Linked DNA regions of Homo sapiens. The protein of the gene in region 1 purifies or fractionates together with the protein of each later gene. This does not show direct contact. Each region holds a gene or a part of one and is shown on either strand. Other genes may lie near its edges.

What was found.
Region 2: the proteins of PPIL4 (region 1) and TOX4 purify together in Homo sapiens (affinity purification with mass spectrometry, with the first as the bait; one large-scale study listed by BioGRID). This does not show direct contact.
Region 3: the proteins of PPIL4 (region 1) and DENND2D fractionate together in Homo sapiens (co-fractionation; one large-scale study listed by BioGRID). This does not show direct contact.

What each region holds. Positions count from the first base shown.
Region 1 is NC_000006.12:149,528,879-149,532,612, forward strand, and holds part of PPIL4 (peptidyl-prolyl cis-trans isomerase-like 4), read right to left. Parts: intron 1-3,734. UniProt on the Homo sapiens protein: PPIases accelerate the folding of proteins. It catalyzes the cis-trans isomerization of proline imidic peptide bonds in oligopeptides.
Region 2 is NC_000014.9:21,490,542-21,494,275, forward strand, and holds part of TOX4 (TOX high mobility group box family member 4), read left to right. Parts: intron 1-1,754; coding exon 1,755-1,835; intron 1,836-1,966; coding exon 1,967-2,716; intron 2,717-3,734. UniProt on the Homo sapiens protein: Transcription factor that modulates cell fate reprogramming from the somatic state to the pluripotent and neuronal fate. In liver, controls the expression of hormone-regulated gluconeogenic genes such as G6PC1 and PCK1.
Region 3 is NC_000001.11:111,185,469-111,188,057, reverse strand, and holds the end of DENND2D (DENN domain-containing protein 2D), read left to right. Parts: intron 1-376; coding exon 377-453; 3' UTR 454-2,089; downstream 2,090-2,589. UniProt on the Homo sapiens protein: Guanine nucleotide exchange factor (GEF) which may activate RAB9A and RAB9B. Promotes the exchange of GDP to GTP, converting inactive GDP-bound Rab proteins into their active GTP-bound form.

The DNA.
Region 1 (3,734 bases):
AAAATATACAAGCTGTGATACATCCATACAATGAAACATTACTTAGCAATTAAAAGAAATGAGCTATCAGCCATGCATGGTGGCTCACGCCTGTAATCCCAACACTTTGGGAGGCCAAGACAGGAAGATCACTTGAACCTGGGAGTTTGGGATCAGCCTGAGCAACATGGGTAAGACTCCATCTCTACAAAAAAATTTAAAAATTACCAAGGTGTGGTGGCGTGTGCCTATAGTCCCAGCTACTCAAGAGGCTGAGGCAGGAAGACTGCTCAACCTCAGTTCAAGGTTATAGTGAGCTATGACAGCACCACTGCACTCCAGCCTGAGTGAAAGAGTGAGACTTTCTCTAAAAAAAAAAAACAAAAAAAAGAAAGAAATGAAATCCCAGGCCGGGCAACATAGTGAGACTCTGTCTCTACAAAAAATAAAATTAGCCGGGCATGGTGGCACACGCCTGTGGTCCCAGCTACTTGTGAGGCTGAGGTAGGAGGATTACTTGAGCCCTGGAGGTCGGGGTGCAGTGAGCCATTATTGTGCCACTGTCCATGCAACAGAGCGAGAACCTGTCTCAAATAAAAAAAAATTAAAAAAAATTAAAAAAAGGGCCGGGCAGGGTGACTCATGCTGTAATCCCAGCACTTTGGGAGGCTGAGGCGCGCAGATCACGAGGTCAAGAGATCAAGACCATCCTGGCTAACACGGTGAAACCTCGTCTCTACTAAAAATACAAAATAATTAGCCGGGCGCGGTGGCACGTGCCTGTAGTCCCAGCTACTCAGGAGGCTGAGGCAGGAGAATCTCTTGAACCTGGGAGGCAGAGGTTGCAGTGAGCCGAGATAATGCCACTGTACTCTAGCCTGACGACAAGAGCGAGACTCCGTCTCAAAAAAAAAAAAAAAAGGAGGGAAAGAAAAGAAAGAAAAAGAAAAAGGGAAAGGAGAAAGGGAAAGGGAAGAAAGAAAAAAGGCACAGTGGAACCTTAAATGTATATTGCTAAGTGAAAGAAGACAGTCTGAAAAGGCTACATACGCTATAATTCCAACTATATGACATTTTGAAAATGCCAAAACTATATAGACAGTAAAAACATCAGTAGTTGCCAAGAAGTGGGTGTTGGGGGTGGGGATGAACAGGTGGAGCCCAGGGGATTTTTTAGACAGTGAAACTACCTTGAATGATCCTGTAAGGGTAGATATATGCTATCGTACATTTGTCAGTTCCACCGAATGTACAACACAAAGCTTGAATTCTAACGTAAATCATGGATTTTAATTAATAATGTATCAATATTGGCTCATCAATTGTTAACAAATGTGTCACAATAATGCAAGACTGGGGGAAAGAGGGAGGGAGTACTTAGAAACTCTCTGTACTTTATGTTCAGTTTTTCTGTAATTCTAAAATTGCTCTACAAATTGTCTATTAAAAACAAAGCCAAAAAAAGAATCCATGAGACACGGATAATGAACGGATAGATAAGCAGTTAAGAAGGGAGGGCTCAGGCGGGCACAGTGGCTCACACCTGTAATCCCAGCACTTTGGGAGGCCGAGGCAGGCAGATCACCAGGTCAGGAGTTTGAGACAAGCCTGACCAACATGGTGAAACCCTGTCTCTACTAAAAATACAAAAATTAGCTGGGCGTGGTGGCGGGCACCTATAATCCCTGCTACCCAGGAGGCTGAGGCAGGAGAATCGCTTAAACCTGGGAGGCAGAGGTTGCAGTGAGCCAAGATTGCGCCATTGCTCTCCAGCCTGGGTGACAGAGCGAGACTCCATCTCGGAAAAAAAAAAAGAAGGGAGGGCTCTTCCTTACAGTAGAATGCAGGTTGGTAATTGTGGAAAAAGTGGTGGGGGTGGGAAATTACCACTTTGCATAATTACCACTTTGCACTTAGCAGAGTCAAAACTGGTGCAGTCAGGAATCATGAATGGCTGAGAAATTTATGGGGGAAATTTGACAAGGAACAAGACATTTGAAAGATCTCCAAGTGTCTAGCCACAGATTGTCTATTGGAGACACCAGGCAGTGGACTACCATGACCAAGTGACCAAAATTACTCATCTTCCAATGAATATCGTACACCTCCAGATGTGACCTCTGAGGACACAACATCACTCACGTACTATTTCGGCTGTGGGTGCATAACCTGAATCTAATCATGAGGAAAGAGTAGATAAACCTAAATTGAAAAATATTCTATTGGCCGGGCACGGTGGCTCATGCCTGTAATCCCAGCACTTTGGGAGGCCAAGGCAGGAGGATCGCCTGAGGTCGGGAGTTGGAGACCAGCCTGGGCAACACAGTGAAACCCTGTCTCTACTACAATTACAAAAAATTAGCTGGATGTGGTGGCAGGCGCCTGTAATCCCAGCTACTCGGGAGCCTGAGGCAGAAGAATCGCTTGAACCCGGGAGGCAGAGGTTGCAGTGAGCCAAGATCGTGCCATTGCACTCCAGCCTGATAACAGAGCGAGATTCTGTCTCAAAAAAAAAAAAAAAAAAAAAATTAGCCAGGCGTGGGTGGCAGGCACCTATAATCCCAGCTATTTGGGAAGCTGAGGCAGCTGAATCGCTTGAACCTGGGAGGTGGAGGTTGCAGTGAGCCGAGATCATGCCATTGCACTTCAACCTGGGCAACAGAAACTCCGTCTCAAAAAAAAAAAAAGGAAAATATTCTACAAAATAAATGCAACAGATGATAAGTCACGAGCTGGATTCTAGTCTGGAGGAGGAAACAATTATAAAAGATATTATTAGAACAACTGGCAAAATTGGAATATAAACTGTAATTTCTTTTTTCTTTTTTTTGAGACGGAGTCTCGCCCTGTTGCCCAGGCCGGAGTGCAATGGCGCGATCTCGGCTCACAGCAACTTTCGCCTGCTGGGTTCAAGCGATTCTCCTGCCTCAGCCTCCTGAGTATCTAGGATTACAGCCGCATGCCTCTATACCCAGCTAATTTTTGTATTTTTAGTAGAGACGGAGTTTCACCATGTTGGCCAGGCTGGTCTCGAACTCCTGACCTCGTGATCCACCCGCCTCGGCCTCCCAAAGTGCTGGGATTACAGGCGTGAGCCACTGTGCCCGGCCCTATAAACTGTAATTTCTGTCACTTCTAAATTTTCTGATTTTGGTAACTACACTGTGAATACGTACATATTGTTATACACATTGAATACTGCTGCTCTTAGGAAATACACACTGATTAAGAGGTAAAGGGAAATAACAGGCAACTTACTGTCAAATAGTCGAGAAAAAAAATGTGTGTTTATGTGCTTGTATAATCAGAGAGAGAGAAAAAGAGAGAATCATAAAACAGATGTAGCAAAATGTTAAAAATTGGTGAATGTGGGTAAAAGGTATATAGAAGTTCTATGTACTTTTTCCCATAAATTTGAAATTATCTGAAAACAAAAAGTTTTAAAAAGTATGTTAATCTATTTTCTTCTGGCATAAACTTCCAAAGTGTTGCTGTGGAAAAGTCTGATAACAATCTAAATTCATTCCCTTATAAGTAACTTATTCTTTCTGCCCAATTGTTCAACATATCTTTCAAGTGTAGTAATTCTCTTAGAATTTGTCTTGGTGTTGGGTGTTCAGAGTCAATACTCTGAGATACACAGTGTGCTCATTAAAATGTGTATTTTCAATTAATTTTTTTAATTTCAGTAAAGCTTTCTTGAACTATACAGCCTTTACTATTTGTTCATTCAGACAGTTGATGGTAATATAAAC
Region 2 (3,734 bases), on another chromosome or scaffold:
TTCCCGCTTTTAAGGTGGAAACTGGAGCCCACTGCCCAGTTAAGGTCATATAACATTTAAGTGGTAAAGTTGAGACACAATCCAGGTTCTTTAACTCTTCCCATGTACTTTCCACTAATAATGTCTCCTATAATTCCTCATGTAGTGTCCTTCTGTTCAATTTTTAGATATTTAACTTTTCTAAGTCTCATTTTTTCCCCCATTTATAAAATTAGGCTATTACTTGATAAGCTGCATGCTGTGGCTAACTCTCAAATCCACTACCAAGTTTGGATTTAGAATTACTTGTTTGTTTGTTTTTGAGATGGAATTTCGCTCCTGTTACCCAGGCTGCAGTGCAGTGGTGCAATCTCAGCTTACTGCAACTTCCACCTCCTGGGTTCAAGTGATTCTCCTGCCTCAGCCTCCCAAGTAGCTGGGATTACCGGCATGTGCCGCCACACCCAGCTAATGTTGTATTTTTAGTAGAGACAGGGTTTCACCGTGTTGGTCAGGCTGGTGCCAAACTCCTGACCTCAGGTGATCCGCCTGCCTTGTCCTCCCAACGTGCTGGGATTACAGGTGTGAGCCACCGCACCTGGCCTATTTTTTTTCTTTCTTTTTCTTTTTTGGATTTAGAGTTTAAAAACTTTTTAGAGCTAGCCCAGATTCAAAGGAGGGGGAAATAGGCTTCAGCTCTTGAAGGGAGAAAGGTCATATGGGAGGAGTTGTTGTGGCCATCTTTGCAAACAATTTACCACATTCCATAAGGGAAAATATACTGGTTAGACACAGTCCCAGGCTAAGACACAGTTTTTGGATTAGGGTTTATTTTGTATTTATTTATTTATTTTTTTGAGACAGAGTCTCACTGTGTCGCCCAGGCTGGAGTGCAGTAGCACAATCTTGGTTGACTGCAAGCTCTATCTCCCAGGTTCACGCCATTCTCCTGCCTCAGCCTCCTGAGTAGCTGGACTATAGGCGCCCATCACCACGCCGGGCTAGTTTTGTTTTTGTTTTTTTTAGTAGAGATCGGGTTTCACCAGGTTAGCCAGGATGGTCTCAATCTCCTGACCTCGTGATCTGGCCACCTTGGCCTCCCAAAGTGCTGGGATTACAGGCGTGAGCCACCGCACCTGGCAGATTAGGGTTTATTTTTGTTACAGAAGTGAGCATGGGTTGATGTTTGCCTTAAATGTAGCTATTCTCGGCCAGGCGTGGTGGCTCACGCCTGTAATCCCAGCACTTTGGGAGGCAGAGGCAGGCGGATCACAAGGTCAGGAGATCGAGACCATCCTGGCTAACACAGCGAAACCCCATCTCTACTAAAAATACAAAAAATTAGCCGGGCGTGGTGGCGGGTGCCTATAGTCCCAGCTACTCAGGAGGCTGAAGCAGGAGAATGGCATGAACCTGGGAGGCAGAGCTTGCAATGAGCCAAGATCACGCCACTGCACTCGAGCCTGGGCGAGAGAGCACGACTCTGTCTCAAAAAAAATTTAAAAAAAATAAAATAAATGTAGCAAAATAAAATAAATGTAGCTATTCTTGCCAGACTCCTGTCGATTGGTTGTCTTTCAGAGGTATGCTCAGTGGAGTGAGTCTGCCATGGAGGTTGTCTTGACTGTTAGCTTTCAGAATTGAATTCACTGATAGAGGTTGTCAGTGATTAGACTAAGATGAATTGTCATTCATTGATAAATAATACAGAACTATCAGTCTTTCCTAAGAGTATGGGGAGTTTTGTTTTTTTTTTTAAAGTCTCTTTTTTGCAGGTATATAAGAGGAAAACTGAGGCTGCCAAGAAAGAGTATCTGAAGGCACTGGCTGCTTACAAAGACAACCAGGAGTGTCAGGTAAGAGGGATAGGATAGAATGAATATTTAAACCAGTAAGAAGTTTTTTGGAAGTGTTTGTTAGCAGTTTTAAGAAGTAAATACCACCAAGTGATTGATTAATTGATAGATTGATTTATGTCTTCTTTTAGGCCACTGTGGAAACAGTGGAATTGGATCCAGCACCACCATCACAAACTCCTTCTCCACCTCCTATGGCTACTGTTGACCCAGCATCTCCAGCACCAGCTTCAATAGAGCCCCCTGCCCTGTCCCCATCCATTGTTGTTAACTCCACCCTTTCATCCTATGTGGCAAACCAGGCATCTTCTGGAGCTGGGGGTCAGCCCAATATCACCAAGTTGATTATTACCAAACAAATGTTGCCCTCTTCTATTACTATGTCTCAAGGAGGGATGGTTACTGTTATCCCAGCCACAGTGGTGACCTCCCGGGGGCTCCAACTAGGCCAAACCAGTACAGCTACTATCCAGCCCAGTCAACAAGCCCAGATTGTCACTCGGTCAGTGTTGCAGGCAGCAGCAGCTGCTGCTGCTGCTGCTTCTATGCAACTGCCTCCACCCCGACTACAGCCCCCTCCATTACAACAGATGCCACAGCCCCCGACTCAGCAGCAAGTTACCATTCTGCAGCAGCCTCCTCCACTCCAGGCCATGCAACAGCCTCCACCTCAGAAAGTTCGAATCAATTTACAGCAACAGCCTCCTCCTCTGCAGATCAAGAGTGTGCCTCTACCCACTTTGAAAATGCAGACTACCTTAGTCCCACCAACTGTGGAAAGTAGTCCTGAGCGGCCTATGAACAACAGCCCTGAGGCCCATACAGTGGAGGCACCTTCTCCTGAGACTATCTGTGAGATGATCACAGATGTAGTTCCTGAGGTGAGCCTTTGTTTTTAAGTCTTTAGTCTAGTGGAAATGTATAAAAATGTTTTTGGTTGACCCAATAACAGTGGGGGTTGCTACTAGCATTTAATGCCCAGCAACCAGGAGCACAAAACATCCTGCAGATGGGAGTTCCTTGCAGCAGTTGACTTCTCTTACCCAAGGTACTCATACTGTTTTTTTTTTGTTTGTTTGTTTTTGAGATGGAGTTTCACTCATTGCCCAGGCTGGAGTGCAATGGTGCGATCTCGGCTCACTGCAACCTCTACCTCCTGGGTTCAAGAGATTCTCCTGCCTCAGCCTCCCGAGTGGCTGGGATTACAGGCATGTGCCACCATGTCCGGCTAATTTTGTATTTTTAGTAGAGACGGTTTCTCCATGTTGGTCAGGCTGGTCTCGAACTCCTGATCTCAGGTGATCTGCCTGCCTCGGCCTCCCAAAGTGCTGGGATTACAGGTGTGAGCCACTGCACCCGCCCTGTTTTGTTTTGTTTTGTTTTGTTTTTCTTGAGACGGAGTCTCGCTCTGTTGCCTGGGCTGGAGTGCAGTGGTGTAATCTTGGCTCACTGCAATCTCCACCTCCTAGTTCAAGTGATTCTCCTGCCTCAGCCTCCCGAGTAGCTGGGATTACAGGCGCCCACCACTACACCCAGCTAATTTTTTGTATTTTTATTAGAGACAGAGTTTCACCATGTTCATTGGGCTGGTCTTGAACTCCTGACCTCGTGATTCGCCCGCTTCGGCCTCCCAGAGTGCAGGGATTACAGGCGTGAGCCACCGTGTGCCCCATAGTGTTTTTAGTGAGATACATTAAGACAGTCTTCTGCCCCAGACCACTCCTTAACTAAGCAGAGGTCACTAGTTCAACTGGACAGGATATAGCCTAAACAGTTATTATTCAGAGTTGTTACCCAAGGATCCTAAACTTTGGACATGCAAAGCTTTTCATTTCTCCTAGGTCTTAAGTTCCTTAGCTTGATGTTTTAAATGTGTGTGGGGCAGGGGGTATAGGCAGA
Region 3 (2,589 bases), on another chromosome or scaffold:
ATACTTCTCTTTAGAAACCCACAAAATAGCTGTAGGTAGACTTTTATTAGTGGAGTTGAAATGACATAACCTGAAACCTAAGAAAATGTCTAATGGGCTGCCATTTTGTGGAAGTTGGTTTACCCATTAGTGAACAGGACTGAGCCCTTTCCTCTGTTTTAGTCTAGAGCTAATTCCTGCTAAGTATCCTCTGTTTATGGGCTCCTTTTTGGACAAAACTGAATGTCTGGATCTCCAGAACCTGTGAGGCCAGAGACATCCTGGCAGGGATGGCAGTATGGGGAGCAGACAGGATATTTCTGATCCTTATTCCTGAGCTCATTATAATCTGCCTGACCAGATCAGATGCCTCTAACACCTGTATTTGAACCCACAGGCTATTTCCAACAGAAAATACTTGAATATGAGGAACAGAAGAAACAGAAGAAACCAAGGGAAAAAACTGTGAAATAAGAGCTGTGGTGAATAAGAATGACTAGAGCTACACACCATTTCTGGACTTCAGCCCCTGCCAGTGTGGCAGGATCAGCAAAACTGTCAGCTCCCAAAATCCATATCCTCACTCTGAGTCTTGGTATCCAGGTATTGCTTCAAACTGGTGTCTGAGATTTGGATCCCTGGTATTGATTTCTCAGGACTTTGGAGGGCTCTGACACCATGCTCACAGAACTGGGCTCAGAGCTCCATTTTTTGCAGAGGTGACACAGGTAGGAAACAGTAGTACATGTGTTGTAGACACTTGGTTAGAAGCTGCTGCAACTGCCCTCTCCCATCATTATAACATCTTCAACACAGAACACACTTTGTGGTCGAAAGGCTCAGCCTCTCTACATGAAGTCTGTGGACATGTAAGGACGAGAGTAAAGAGGAAAATCTTATTTTTATATGTGTCTTTGGCTTTTACTATGGGTAAAAGTATTTTCCTCGTGGAAAATAAGGCAATGAATATGACAATCAAGTGGACTACAAGTGGAAGACCTGGCCATGGGGATATGTTTGGAGTGATAGAATCATGGGGGGCAGCAGCTCTACTTCTTCTAACCGGAAGGGTAAGAGATACTGGTAAAAGCAGCAGCAGCACTGGACACAGGGCATCTAAGTCCTTGGTTTGGAGTCAGGTGTGCTTTCCAGAATCCTGGGAGGAGAGGCTGCTCACTGAAGGGAAGCAGCTTCAGTCTAGAGTAATTTGAGGATAGGAATTTCAGTCAACAGCAGCCTGTGAAGAACACTACATGGCTTCCATACGTAGGTCTGTTTCCCCATCACTTTCAGTTTGCACTAGTCCTTTACCTTCAGTCTTGGACATCCTACCTCCAACTGATCTTTATTTTGAGCAGCACAGTCCAATTCTTTAACTAAAGGTGAAGGGATCGCTGCACTGACGTTCTTCCCCTTTGAGAAAAGAATCGTAATTTTAAGAGTCTGAAGGAGTTTAGTGGTCACCTAGTCTCTCCTCCCTTGATACCTCTACTGATACTTTCTACTCAAGCATTGGGAAGCTTTTTTAGAAGAATCTTATCTTCAAAAATTCTACCTTTTTTAATGTGTGTATTTGTGGCCCTCAGAAGTTCCTAAATTCTATACAAAGAACACAAAAGTTTCTGGAGGGTGGAACCGGGCATACTGAAGTTCAAGCCAATGTAATTTGCTTTTGGGAGTGCAGAGACCTACTGCAGGTGGCAGATGTCCCACTGTCCACACACCGTGCTTAGCTACACTACTATTCTTCACAGCTTCTAGGAATTACATTTTTTTTTGGTAGTTTATGGCAGTGGTGCCTAAATATAGTTGTACCTCCAAAGGTTTCAGAACAGGAACTGGAATCCTGAGAATCTTGTGAAAATATCCTCTTATGCCTCATCACAAATACACCAAATCATCTCTAGTGATAGGACCTGGAAATCTGTACTTTCTTAAAAGGTTCTTCAGGTAAGGTTTGCTGAGGTTTATTACAAATGTACCCTTGATTTGATGCTAATGCTGTATTTAGGGCTGAAGGAAGCACACACTAAATATCTGAGTGCTTTTCAGATTCCATCTATGCTGAAAAAGAATCTAGGAGAATAAACACATTTCAATTAGCCCTTAACATCTTGCTTCAGAACTTTAGCCCACTAAAGCCCAGTAGGGCATAGGAGAGAACACTGCACCAGGATTCAGATCTGGATTCTAATTTTTGTTCTGAAAAATAGCAAGTGACACTGGCATGCCATTTAACCTCTCCGGGCCTCAATTTCCACTATAGATAGTACCTGATGTGTCAGTAAGACAACTGATGTAACTTTGCCAAACAAGTAGAATTATCCTTCCTCCTTTGTCCTGCTCTGTCCTAGCTTTTAATACTTGGTCTGCCCTAACATTTTCCTGTATGTATTTCTTTATCCCAGATATTCGAACAATTGCTAGCAAGGAAAAGTAATGACGGATTTTCATTTCCCAATATAGTCTGGCAAAGAAATGAAAGGTTTACTTCTCCTTGCTAATTCAATCTACATGGTATTGATGGAATCATTAAAAGTGCAAGCAAGCAGCGCTCTGGCTGCCATACAAGGCAGTGTAGCTACTGTTTATTCCTGATTATGGGACAAG